Linked DNA regions of Homo sapiens: region 1 is linked to region 2. The links come from fine-mapping of genetic effects on gene expression. A gene starts in region 2. The other region holds a variant in brackets. All regions are shown on one strand. Distances are from middle to middle. Region 1 overlaps LOC105376205 (a long non-coding RNA gene). Region 2 holds the start of KLF4 (KLF transcription factor 4).

Region 1 (5,365 bases), 120 kb after region 2:
AGGTTGTCTGCAAACTTGAGGAGCACGGAGTGTAGTCCGAGTCTCAAAACTGAAGAAATTGGAGTCTGATGTTTGAGGGCAGGAAGCGTTCAGCAAGGGAGAAAGATGTAGGCTAGGAGGCTAGTCAGTCTCACGTTTTCATGTTTTTCTGCCTCCTTTAGATTTACTGGCAGCTGATTAGATTATACCCATCAGATTAAGGGTGGGTCTGCCTTCCCCAGCCCACTGACTCAAATGTTAATCTCTTTTGGCAACACCCTCACAGACACACCCAGGACCAATACTTCGCATCCTTCAATTCAATCAAATTGACACTCAGCGTTAACCATCACAGATGGAGTCTTGCTCTGTCGCCCAGGCTGGAGTACAGTGGCACGATCTCTGCTCACTGCAACAGGCACTTCCAGATTCAAGAGATTCTCCTGCCTCAGCATCCCAAGTAGCTAATTTTTTGTAATTTTAGTACAGATGGGGTTTCACCATGTTGCCCAGGCTGGTCTTGAACTCCTGGCCTCAGGCGATCTGCCCACTTCGGCCTCCCAAAGTGCTGGAATTATAGACGTGAACCACTGTGCATGGCCCAGAGCCCAAGCTTTGACTTCAGAAGTTTTAGTTCCTAGCTTTGTTTTCTTTCCTACCTTGAACAAACCAGTAGACCTTTCCTCTGCTTCAGTTTTTTTCCTAGCATTAGCACAAAGATCCTTACCTCCTGGGAGTAGGGGGAGTGGTGGGAATCAAAAGTGATGTGAGATGCGTCTGGATTTTATAATCTGAAGGGTGTTATGCTAGGGCTTGTTATTGCCAATAGATGGATGAACCGTCTGGGGGTGGGATCCCAAGCCACCCCCACTTTGTCACTCTTTCTCCTCTCCCTTCCTTGCATGTCTGGTTTCTAGCTCTCTTATATCCTTATATATTAATCAGTTTATTTGCCAAATATTCACTGAGTGGCTGCACTATCCCTGCCCCAGTGCTAGGTGCTGGGTTATGGTGGTGAACAAGTCTTGTTTGGGGAGTTGTAGGGGTGTATTTGTGTGTGCGTGTGAGTGTGTGTTTGCACCTGTACATGTGTGCAGTAGGGAGAGCAGAGACAGGAATGAAGGACCCCTCCCCAACCCCAGCAACCTGTTGGCTTTTTTTTTTTTTTTCAGGGGGGACAGAGTCTCACTCTGTTGTCTAGGCTGGAGTGCAGTGACATGATCTTGGCTAACCTCCACCTCCTGGGTTCAAGCGATTCTCATACCTCAGCCTCCGGAGTAGCTGGGGTGGCAGGCGTGTGCCGCCATGTCCTGCTAATTTTTGTATTTTTAGTAGAGATAGGGTCTTACCATGTTGCCCAGGCTCGTCTCAAGCTCCTGGCCTCAAGTGATCCATCCACCTTGGCCTCCAAAAGTGCTGGGATTACGGGCATGAGCTATCACATATGGCTAATTTTTGTATTTTTAGTAGAGACAGGGTTTTGCCATGTTGGTCAGGCTGGTCTCAAACTCCTGGCCTTATGTGGTCTGCCTGCCTTGGCCTCCCAAAGTGCTGGGATTACAGGCATGAGCCACCTTGCCTGGCCGTGAGGTCTTCTCACAGATTATTCTGCCTGTTTATTTGCAAAAAGGTGGGGACCCTTGGCTTTCAATGATAATTGTGTGTGTGAAGAACTGGCAGGTCATCAACTGTAATTTTTTTTAATTAAAAAATTAAGATGATCTTCAAAGGCACAAAATTAAAAACACCGGGAATGAAAATCACTAGGTTTCTCATTTGGTGTGGACACAACGGTTTGCTTCCTCTGATTTCTCCCCAGAGGCCCAGGGTATGGAGCAACCTCAGGCCAGCCTGCTTGGCTCTTCCTCATTTGGCCAGGGCGCTTGCTGAGTGTGAAGCCTTCTTCCAGGGCTCTTCATGTGAACAAACTGCATGCAGCCCTTGATTTCGTCACTGCCTGCAAGGGCTCAGGACCCTCCAAGCGTGCTTTTCATCTGGGAAATCTTTATTCTTTTATACTCTTCTGTCTGTCATCAGGATTTGGGCCTGATAACATAGTTTGAAACACTCCAGAGGTTTTGTCAAATGCCACTTTAGCTTTCTGGTGAAGACTCAAAGAATATATGC[T/C]GGGCTGAGGCTGGCACATTTATCCTTCTGGCCATTTTGGTAATTGGCTTTTGGGGAAGTGTGCTCCCCATGGGGGCCTCTCTGAAACCTCCATACTAAGGCGTGGATGGGAAAAACAAAAACCTTTCCAGAGCAAGCTGAAGGGTGAGAAAGAAATAACCTTTTTTTTTTTTTTTTTTTTTTTTTTAAGACAGAGTCTCGCTCAGTTGCCCAGGCTGAAGTGCAGTGGTATGATCTCGGCTCACTGCAACCTCTGCCTCCCAGGTTCAAACGATTCTCCTGCCTCAGGAGTAGCTGGGATTATAGCCATGCACCACCACCCCTGGCTAATTTTTGTAGCTTTAGTAGAGATGGGGTTTTGCCATATTGGCCAGGCTGGTCTCGAACTCCTGACCTGAGGCGATCCGCCCACCTCGGCCTCCCAGAGTGCTGGGATTACAGGCGCGAGCCACTGCTCCTGGCCAGAATAACATTTTTGTTCACCCCAGTCCTATCCTTTTCTGTCTGCTCTATTCACCCACGTACCTTTTGGTGGCCGTCATTAAAGGCAGAGGCTCTGCTTCTTTGGTTCATGAATTATTTGCAGAAAACTTGCTTTGCCTGGGTTCTAGACTCGTTCAACATTGGGCCTTTGGCTGTAATTCCTATCTTCGGTCTTTCTCTTGCTCCTGCCCCTCATATTGACCAATTTATTTAGGTTCCCCCAGCTCAGTGCTTGGAGTTCCCTCAGGATCTGCCTTGGACTCCATCCTACTGGCCTTCCATAGGGTTCTCCAATTCCGGAAGTGCTCTGCAGGCCTCAGTCTCTAGCCTGGACTTGCTTAGTGGGTTCATCCAAGACTCAGATGCTTACCATGGACCCAGCACTGACCAGACACCTGGAGGTTTGTTTGATCTGGTTGGCTCACACTGGGGGCAGCTTGTTCTTAGGATTCCTTTCCCTGAATCCCCAGAGGGCTTGATTCCCTACCCTTCACCCCCAACAGGTGTCCAGCATGCCTGTTGCCTGTGCTGAGGCAGTAAAACAATTCTTCAGTGCTATAAACTCAAGGGCTCACCTGTTGAAGGTCAGTGTGTTCAGAGGTGTTTTTACAGCCAGTAAACATAGCACCCATTTACAGTGGAGCACATTGGGTTGTAAATTATTTCACCGATAGCACTAGCCCCTTATTGACAGAGAAATGGGGGAAATTACACAACCACTCTATATGGTGAGAAAATGCAGTTCTGGTGATACCCATGGACTGCCTGTATCATTCTACTGATGAATTATTTCTTTTCTTTCCCCACCCCCAGCCTGTTATTTAACATTGGATTTTGGCTACAGACCCAAGCCACATTTGCTCAGTTTTTTTGTTTTTTTTCTCTGCTAGTACTATAGCCTTTGAAAGGCATTCATTTTGCCTAAGCTGGCTATGTGATGGGTGTTTCCTAGATGTGAGACTCTGTCATTGACAACTAGTGAACTTTGGGACTTAAAGGTATTTCAGGAATTGATGGGGACTACTCATGTGCTGTCTTCTGCTTTGGGATGACTTCTAGGAGCCCTGGCCACTGCTACCATGGGCAAAGACTGGGTGTTCCTGCCCCATGACTATGCAGAAGGAAACCCCAAATCACCTGCTAGCAAGCATATTCTGTTGCTTGGCACCTCGTTCTTCATCCCGTTTGCCCTTTAAGCTGGGCCCAGGACACTGAAAACTTGGAGAAGGACTGAAAAATTACAGATCATTGAACTGAGTGTCTGGTAGCTCCTGGGGAGTAGGGAGGCCATTGGATAGGAAGCCAGACACAGATTAGAAAACTGGAACTGCTATTGTCCAGCTAAGTTCACTTGAACACTTCACATCTCCCTGGGCCTCAGTTTCTTCATCTGTAAAATGGGCCTAACAGGGTCTACCTTGTAAGGGAAAGGTAAAATGAAAATGCCTGCAAAAGAGCATGGCATGTCGTATCACAGACCACACAGGTTCTAAGCAAGCTGTCCAGGGCCACTCAGCAGTTCCTCCTCCTCTCCTCATCCTGAGAAGGACTGATGGGACTGAAGAAGACCCTGGACACTCTCTCAGGGTCCCAGTGCTTGTGAGGCTGGGCATGGTGTGACATGCCCTGGAGCGTGGGGCACTCACACATTGTGAATGGGCACCTGGCCGGCCAGCCTGCCACACTGTCCTTCAAGAGCCCTGTCACAAATCTCCGCTGATCGTTCTCTGTTAGAGCTCTGCTTTACCCATGGTTTGGGTTGAATTGACCTGGGGGTTCAGGGCAAAGCCAGGCAGAGAGGAATGGAGAGCCACTGGGCCACCGAGTGCACAGGTGCTGGCCCTTCCAACTCAATCGGTCTCACAACCCTGGCGGAAGGCGCCAGAGGCTTGTAAAAGACCAGGATGTTTCTACAGGTGTTTGCAGTAAAGGGCTTTCCCTACTCCCAGACTTCAGTTCAAGACTGGTTTGGGTCTGGGAGTTTCTCACTTTCCCTAATTCCTGAACAAACAAAACAAATCCATTTTGAGCTTCTGGCTGGATTCCCTCCCCACACAGAGGAAGAGAGAAACTATGATCCACAAGCACCTGCCATATCATCCGTGAGATAGCACACTGATCCTGACAGCAGCCCCCACCCCCAGGCTGGAGTGAATAACCCCCACGCAGAGGGAACGAAGGCCCATGGAAGTGGAGGTCATGCAGTCAGGAGGTGGAAGGTGGTATCTGAACCGAGGACTTGAGCCCCCAAACCCTACACAACTTTACTGCTTCTGAGGCTATGAAGGAGAAAGATTGAAGCAGGGCCTGAGAAAAAGGCCAAGTGGATTAGTGAGGAGGCTGGGGAGAGGAGGAAAAGGGAAATATATAAATAAATGCACACAGTTATTGCCTCATCAAGGCAAATGAAGTTTGCTCATGTGGTGGGAAATTGTGAAACTTGGCTATGAAAGCTTTATGTTAGATAGATTGTGAGGCCCACATGATGAGAGTTCTCCCAGCACACCCTTTTCTCTCCAGCCTCTAATCAGAGATCCGGTTGCTGGTTCATGCTTTTCTACCCAGCTTGATCAGATTTATTGAAACAGCCATTTTTCTTACTCAACCACCTCTTCTTGGAAGTTCTGCAAACTTACAGAAGCCATCCAACCACAGGAGGCAAGGGGCAAAGTGACACACTCTGTAATTTTAGTGCCTCCTTCAGAGCCTCTTTGTTGGAGGAGTTATTGCCATCTCCATTGCTCAAATGAGGATGCAAGTGCAGAGAGTTTATGAT
Region 2 (5,365 bases):
CACCTAAACGACTTTGGGTACCTACTTACATTGACATGGAAATGCTCTGCAGTGACAACCCTAAATCAGAATCTTCCCAGCAATTTTGACCATCATATTCTTGGAATTTAAAATAAAACCTTCTGCTTGTGGGGGAAAAAAAATAAAAATGTAAATCAAAACGAACAAAAAATAAAAAATAAAAAAGTAAGACCGAATTGTTACGACCAGAATTCAAAATAACAAAAAGGGAGGGTGAACCTGGGAAGGGAACATTAAAAAACGATTTTTTTAAAAAAGCCATCATGCTTTTGCATAGCAAAGTATAATTTCTTGATTATAATGCCAAGCTAGGAGAGGCCCACAGACCGCGGGGAATCTCCTGCCTTTTAAAAGCCTAACAAAATTGCACATTCAAACACAGATACCATCCATCAAGCAAAAGGCTCCTGGGCAGAAAAGTAGGCGCCGGTTTGCTGTTCTCTCCAGTGATCCCGGAGATCAAGGCGATAGACTGCCCTGGGAAGCCAAGGAGGCACTGAGGAGTGTCCACTGGTAGCCTATGGGGCTGGAAGCTAACCTGGGAAGTCAAGGAGGCACTGAGGAGTGTCCACTGGTAGCCTATGGGGCTGGAAGCTAACCCCCCTCCCTTCTGCAGTTTGTCCCCCTACCTGTGTGGGTTCGCAGGTGTGCCTTGAGATGGGAACTCTTTGTGTAGGTTTTGCCGCAGCCCGCGTAATCACAAGTGTGGGTGGCGGTCCTTTTCCGGGGCCACGATCGTCTTCCCCTCTTTGGCTTGGGCTCCTCTGGCATGCAGGAACCGGGTGGCATGAGCTCTAGGGGTGAAGAAGGTGGGGTGAGCATCATCCCGTGTGTCCCGAAGTGGGGCCAGCACACACAGGGCTCCCCAGCCCGAGCTACAAATCCCCGGGACTGACCTTGGTAATGGAGCGGCGGGACTTGCGGCTGCATCTGATCGGGCAGGAAGGATGGGTAATTGGGCCCCGGGTGGGGATGGAAGCCGGGAGGAAGCGGCAGGGCAGGGTGACAGTCCCTGCTGCTCAGCACTTCCTCAAGACCCAGGGTCGGGGTAGTCCTGCTGGGGAGCTGCCGCCCCAGGGGGAAGTCGTGTGCAGCCGGCCGGTGGCCATTGCTGAGAGGGGGTCCAGCGCCCAAGTGGGTGCACGAAGAGACCGCCTCCTGCTTGATCTTGGGGCACGTGCGCGGCGGCCCGCCGTTGTAGGGCGCCACCACCACCGGGTGGCTGCCGTCAGGGCTGCCTTTGCTGACGCTGATGACCGACGGGCTGCCGTACTCGCTGCCAGGGGCGCTCAGCGACGCCTTCAGCACGAACTTGCCCATCAGCCCGCCACCTGGCGGCTGCGGCTGCTGCGGCGGAATGTACACCGGGTCCAATTCTGGCCGCAGGAGCTCGGCCACGAAGCCGCCCGAGGGGCTCACGTCGTTGATGTCCGCCAGGTTGAAGGGAGCCGTCGGAGGGGGAGCGGACTCCCTGCCATAGAGGAGGCCTCCGCCCGTGCCGCCCGGCGCCACGCCCGGGTCGTTCCCGGCCCGGATCGGATAGGTGAAGCTGCAGGTGGAGGGCGCGCTGGCAGGGCCGCTGCTCGACGGCGACGACGAAGAGGAGGCTGACGCTGACGAGGACACGGTGGCGGCCACTGACTCCGGAGGATGGGTCAGCGAATTGGAGAGAATAAAGTCCAGGTCCAGGAGATCGTTGAACTCCTCGGTCTCTCTCCGAGGTAGGGGCGCCAGGTTGCTACCGCCGCAAGCCGCACCGGCTCCGCCGCTCTCCAGGTCTGTGGCCACGGTCGCCGCCGCCAGGTCATAGGGGCGGCCGGGAAGCACTGGGGGAAGTCGCTTCATGTGGGAGAGCTCCTCCCGCCAGCGCTGCGGGGACAGGGCGGGAGAGACCTGTCAGTGGTGGTCCCCTGTTGCCACCCGACATACTGACGTGCTGGCGGGCCACGCGCGACTGCACCGCCCAGACATGGGGACTGGTCAGGCAGGAAGCACCCGGGAACCCAGGGCGCCAGCGCTGCAATCTCGGCCCACTCCCGGGTCGAAGAAGAGGTGATGCGTCTGTATTGCGGGTGTTATGTCCTGTCTGCCCAATTGCGTGTGAGCGAGCGCCGCGGCTGGTCCCTCCCCCTCCAGGTCCCGTGGACGTCCCCGGAATTGGCACACCGAGGCTCTCTCGGTGCGCTCTCGCCACGGGGCCGCCTACGCGCTAAACTCACTCTGGCCCAGCCAGTGTCTGGGGACGCGGCCACCTCCCGCCCGGTGGCCCGAGAGCGCCCGCCCTACCGACAGCGCGCCCGGGGACTGGTGAAGACCCGGCTTGCGCCCCAGGCGGCTCCGCAGTGCTCGCACCACGGGCATACACAGCTGAGCCAAGGACACGGAAGCTATCCCGGGAAGGTTGCGGAGTCCGCGCGGTGGCCGCTCCTTACCCTCGTTCAGTGGCTCTTGGTGACCCCAAGGCTCCGCCCGCCCCCACCACACCCACGAAAACCCACCGGGCGTTCCCGGCGGCCCGGAGCGATACTCACGTTATTCGGGGCACCTGCTTGACGCAGTGTCTTCTCCCTTCCCGCCGGGCCAGACGCGAACGTGGAGAAAGATGGGAGCAGCGCGTCGCTGACAGCCATGTCAGACTCGCCAGGTGGCTGCCTGCGAGCAAGGCAGGGAGCGGAGACAGGAGAGTCAGGGGCGGCTTTCGGCCGTCGTTCCGGCGCGTCCCACCGGTCCTCACCCCTCCCTGCTCCCAGCGCCGCGCGCCTCACCTACCTCATTAATGTGGGGGCCCAGAAGGTCCTCGGCAGCCCGAAGCAGCTGGGGCACCTGAACCCCAAAGTCAACGAAGAGAAGAAACGAAGCCAAAACCCAAAACCCCAAATTGGCCGAGATCCTTCTTCTTTGGATTAAATATAACTTGGAAGCGTCTTTTTTAAAAAGTTCCTTTGTATACAAAAGTTCTTAGAAAAGTTGTAAACGCAAAAATAGACAATCAGCAAGGCGAGTAAGTAGGTCCGGTGGCCGGGCTGCGCTCTCTTCCACTCAGCAGCGTCCCCCACCACTGTCGCGGTCGCCTCGAGTGCTGCCGTGGGCGCAGGGGCTGTGGCCGGGGCGGTGGGCGGGCGGTGCCGCCAGGTGAGACTGGCTGCCGTGGCGCGGAGCTGCGAACTGGTCGGCGGCGCAAGGCGCGGACTCCGGTGAGTTGTGTGGAGCGCGCGCGGCCATGGGCGCGGGCCACGGGCGGGTGGGAGGGTGGGGGGCCAGAGGGGCGGGGGAGGGTCACTCGGCGGCTCCCGGTGCCGCCGCCGCCCGCCACCGCCTCTGCTCCCCGCGCGCCCGCAGACACGTTCGTTCTCTCTGGTCGGGAAACTGCCGGCCGCCGGCGCGCGTTCCTTACTTATAACTTCCTTCGCTACAGCCTTTTCCTCCGCCTTCTCCCATGCCCCGCCCCTCCCTTTCTTCTCTCCGCCCCCCCCGAGGCTCCCTTCCATCGTTGCTATGGCAGCTAAATCAACAAACTCGGCGCACGTGGGGGCGGGGGAGGGGAAGGAGGGGCGCGGGCGGGGCTGGGCCGGGCCGTGACGCCAGCCAGGCAGCTGGCGGGCTGGAGCCGAGCTGACGCCGGCGGCAGTGGTGTCGGCGGCGGCGGCGGCGTCCGCCCCAGCGCGGGGCGCGAGGAACCGGGCGCAGGTTCGGTCGCTGCGCGACCAGGGCCGTACTCACCGCCATTGTCGGCTCCCTGGGTTCGAAGCCCGCGAAGACTGGTGGGGTCAGCGGGCGGCACGGTCACGCGTCCGCACCCCTGCTAGCATACGCGCTTGCCGCGCTGTCTGCGCGCTGGAGAAGAGCGCGATTATCCGCGTGACTCATCCAGCCCTCCATCTCCCCCTCCCTCTCTGCGCTCGCAGGAGTCCGCTCTCGTCGCTCAGCGCCAGTGCCGGTGGCGGTGCCGGCGCTCGGCCTGACCTCGCACGGTTCCTCGCGGGCCCTTCTGCTGAGGGGTGGGGGGCGCTAGGGGTGTGGAGAGGAGGCAGTGCCCAGCACTGTGCAGCGTGAACTGGGAGCCTCAAGAGAAGGCCAGAGGAGTGTTCCGCCGGGAACAGGCGGAAAGAGGCACGAATGGGGAGTTATGGTTTTGATACTTTAAATAGCGAGAAAGGGAGTGAAAGGGCTCAAGATTTACTCAGAGGCATAAGGGAGAGAAGAGGGACTGTGAGGCGCGGAGACAGTTTTCAACCAGCCATCTCGAAGCCCTTTCCTTTTTTTTTCTTTCTTTTTTTTTTTTTTGTGAGACAGAGTCTCGCTGTGTCGCCCAAGCTGGAATGCAGTGGCACGATCTCAGCTCAGTGCAACCTCCGCCTCCTGCGTCCAAGCGATTCTCCTGCGTCAGCCTCCCGAGTAGCGGGGATTACAGGCGTGCGCCACGACGCCGGCTAATTTTTGTATTTTTCGTGGAGACGGGGTTTCACCATGTTGGCCAGGCAGGTCTCGAACACCTGACCTCAAGTGATCAGCCTGCCTCGGCCTCCCGAAGTGCTGGGATTACAGGCGTGAGCCACTGCCTGTAATATTTGATGACTAAATTGCACTGTAGAATAATAATAATAATAGAAGACACCCATTAAAGAAGAATTAAACACTCACTGATGACTTTTCAAGCCACGCACTCTCCTTTCCACTTTATGGATGAGAAATTGAGTCATAAAGAGGTGAAATGGCCAGTAAAGGTCAAAGGACAACTCGTTCCTTCGGCTCAGGCTCCGGGTAGGTCAGGCCCCCCTAAAGGGACTTCCCTGGGAAGTGACCATGTGCCAGGAAGTGGAGCGATGCGGTGGGATCCTAGCTCTCAAAAAGTGCACACCGAGCCCGCCGCAGGCGTCCTTGCCCACCGGGAAGGGAATAGGAAACGGCGATCTTTACTTCAATCTTATAACGCTGCCTCCCCCACCCCCACTCTCCCCTTGGTTTGTGATCAGTAATTTTCCAGCTGGGAAATGTTTTGCTCTCATCTTCTTAGCAAACAGTATTTTTTTTTAAAACGTGAATGTGGTGTTCGGTATCACTTTCTAAACGTAGGTTTGGCGAGGTGTTTACTTTGGATTCCGGCGTTCGGCGCGGGACTCCGCCCCCCTCTCCACGGAGCCCCCTCACCGGCGAACGCTGGCGCTTAGGCTGGTGTCAACCTAGGAAAGAGAAGAGAGGGGACACTGGGGAAAGTGGTGGAAGCTCGGGCACCGGGCAGAGAGTGCGCTCACCCCTTTTTGAGTTCTAGTTGCCAATGTCCTTTGTCGTTGTCACCTGTTTGAACCCTGCGATTCTGGTACCTATTAGGTTTCCTCAGAATATT

The links.
Region 1: its variant is fine-mapped to the expression of KLF4 in whole blood (TOPMed, PIP 0.95).

The regions. Positions count from the first base shown.
Region 1 is chr9:107,610,432-107,615,796 of GRCh38, forward strand. The region is part of intron 5 of LOC105376205 (a long non-coding RNA gene); the gene reads left to right. Among named protein-coding and RNA genes, the nearest start is that of KLF4, 120 kb to the left of the region's middle. The variant T/C (reference allele first, on the strand shown) is at 2,107.
Region 2 is chr9:107,486,378-107,491,742 of GRCh38, forward strand. It overlaps KLF4 (KLF transcription factor 4), which reads right to left and starts at 3,392. Exons shown (of 5, transcript NM_004235.6): 1 at 2,791-3,392; 2 at 2,553-2,673; 3 at 918-1,890; 4 at 651-815. The coding sequence starts at 2,795. RefSeq lists silencers at 2,204-2,253, 2,905-3,104, 3,464-3,673.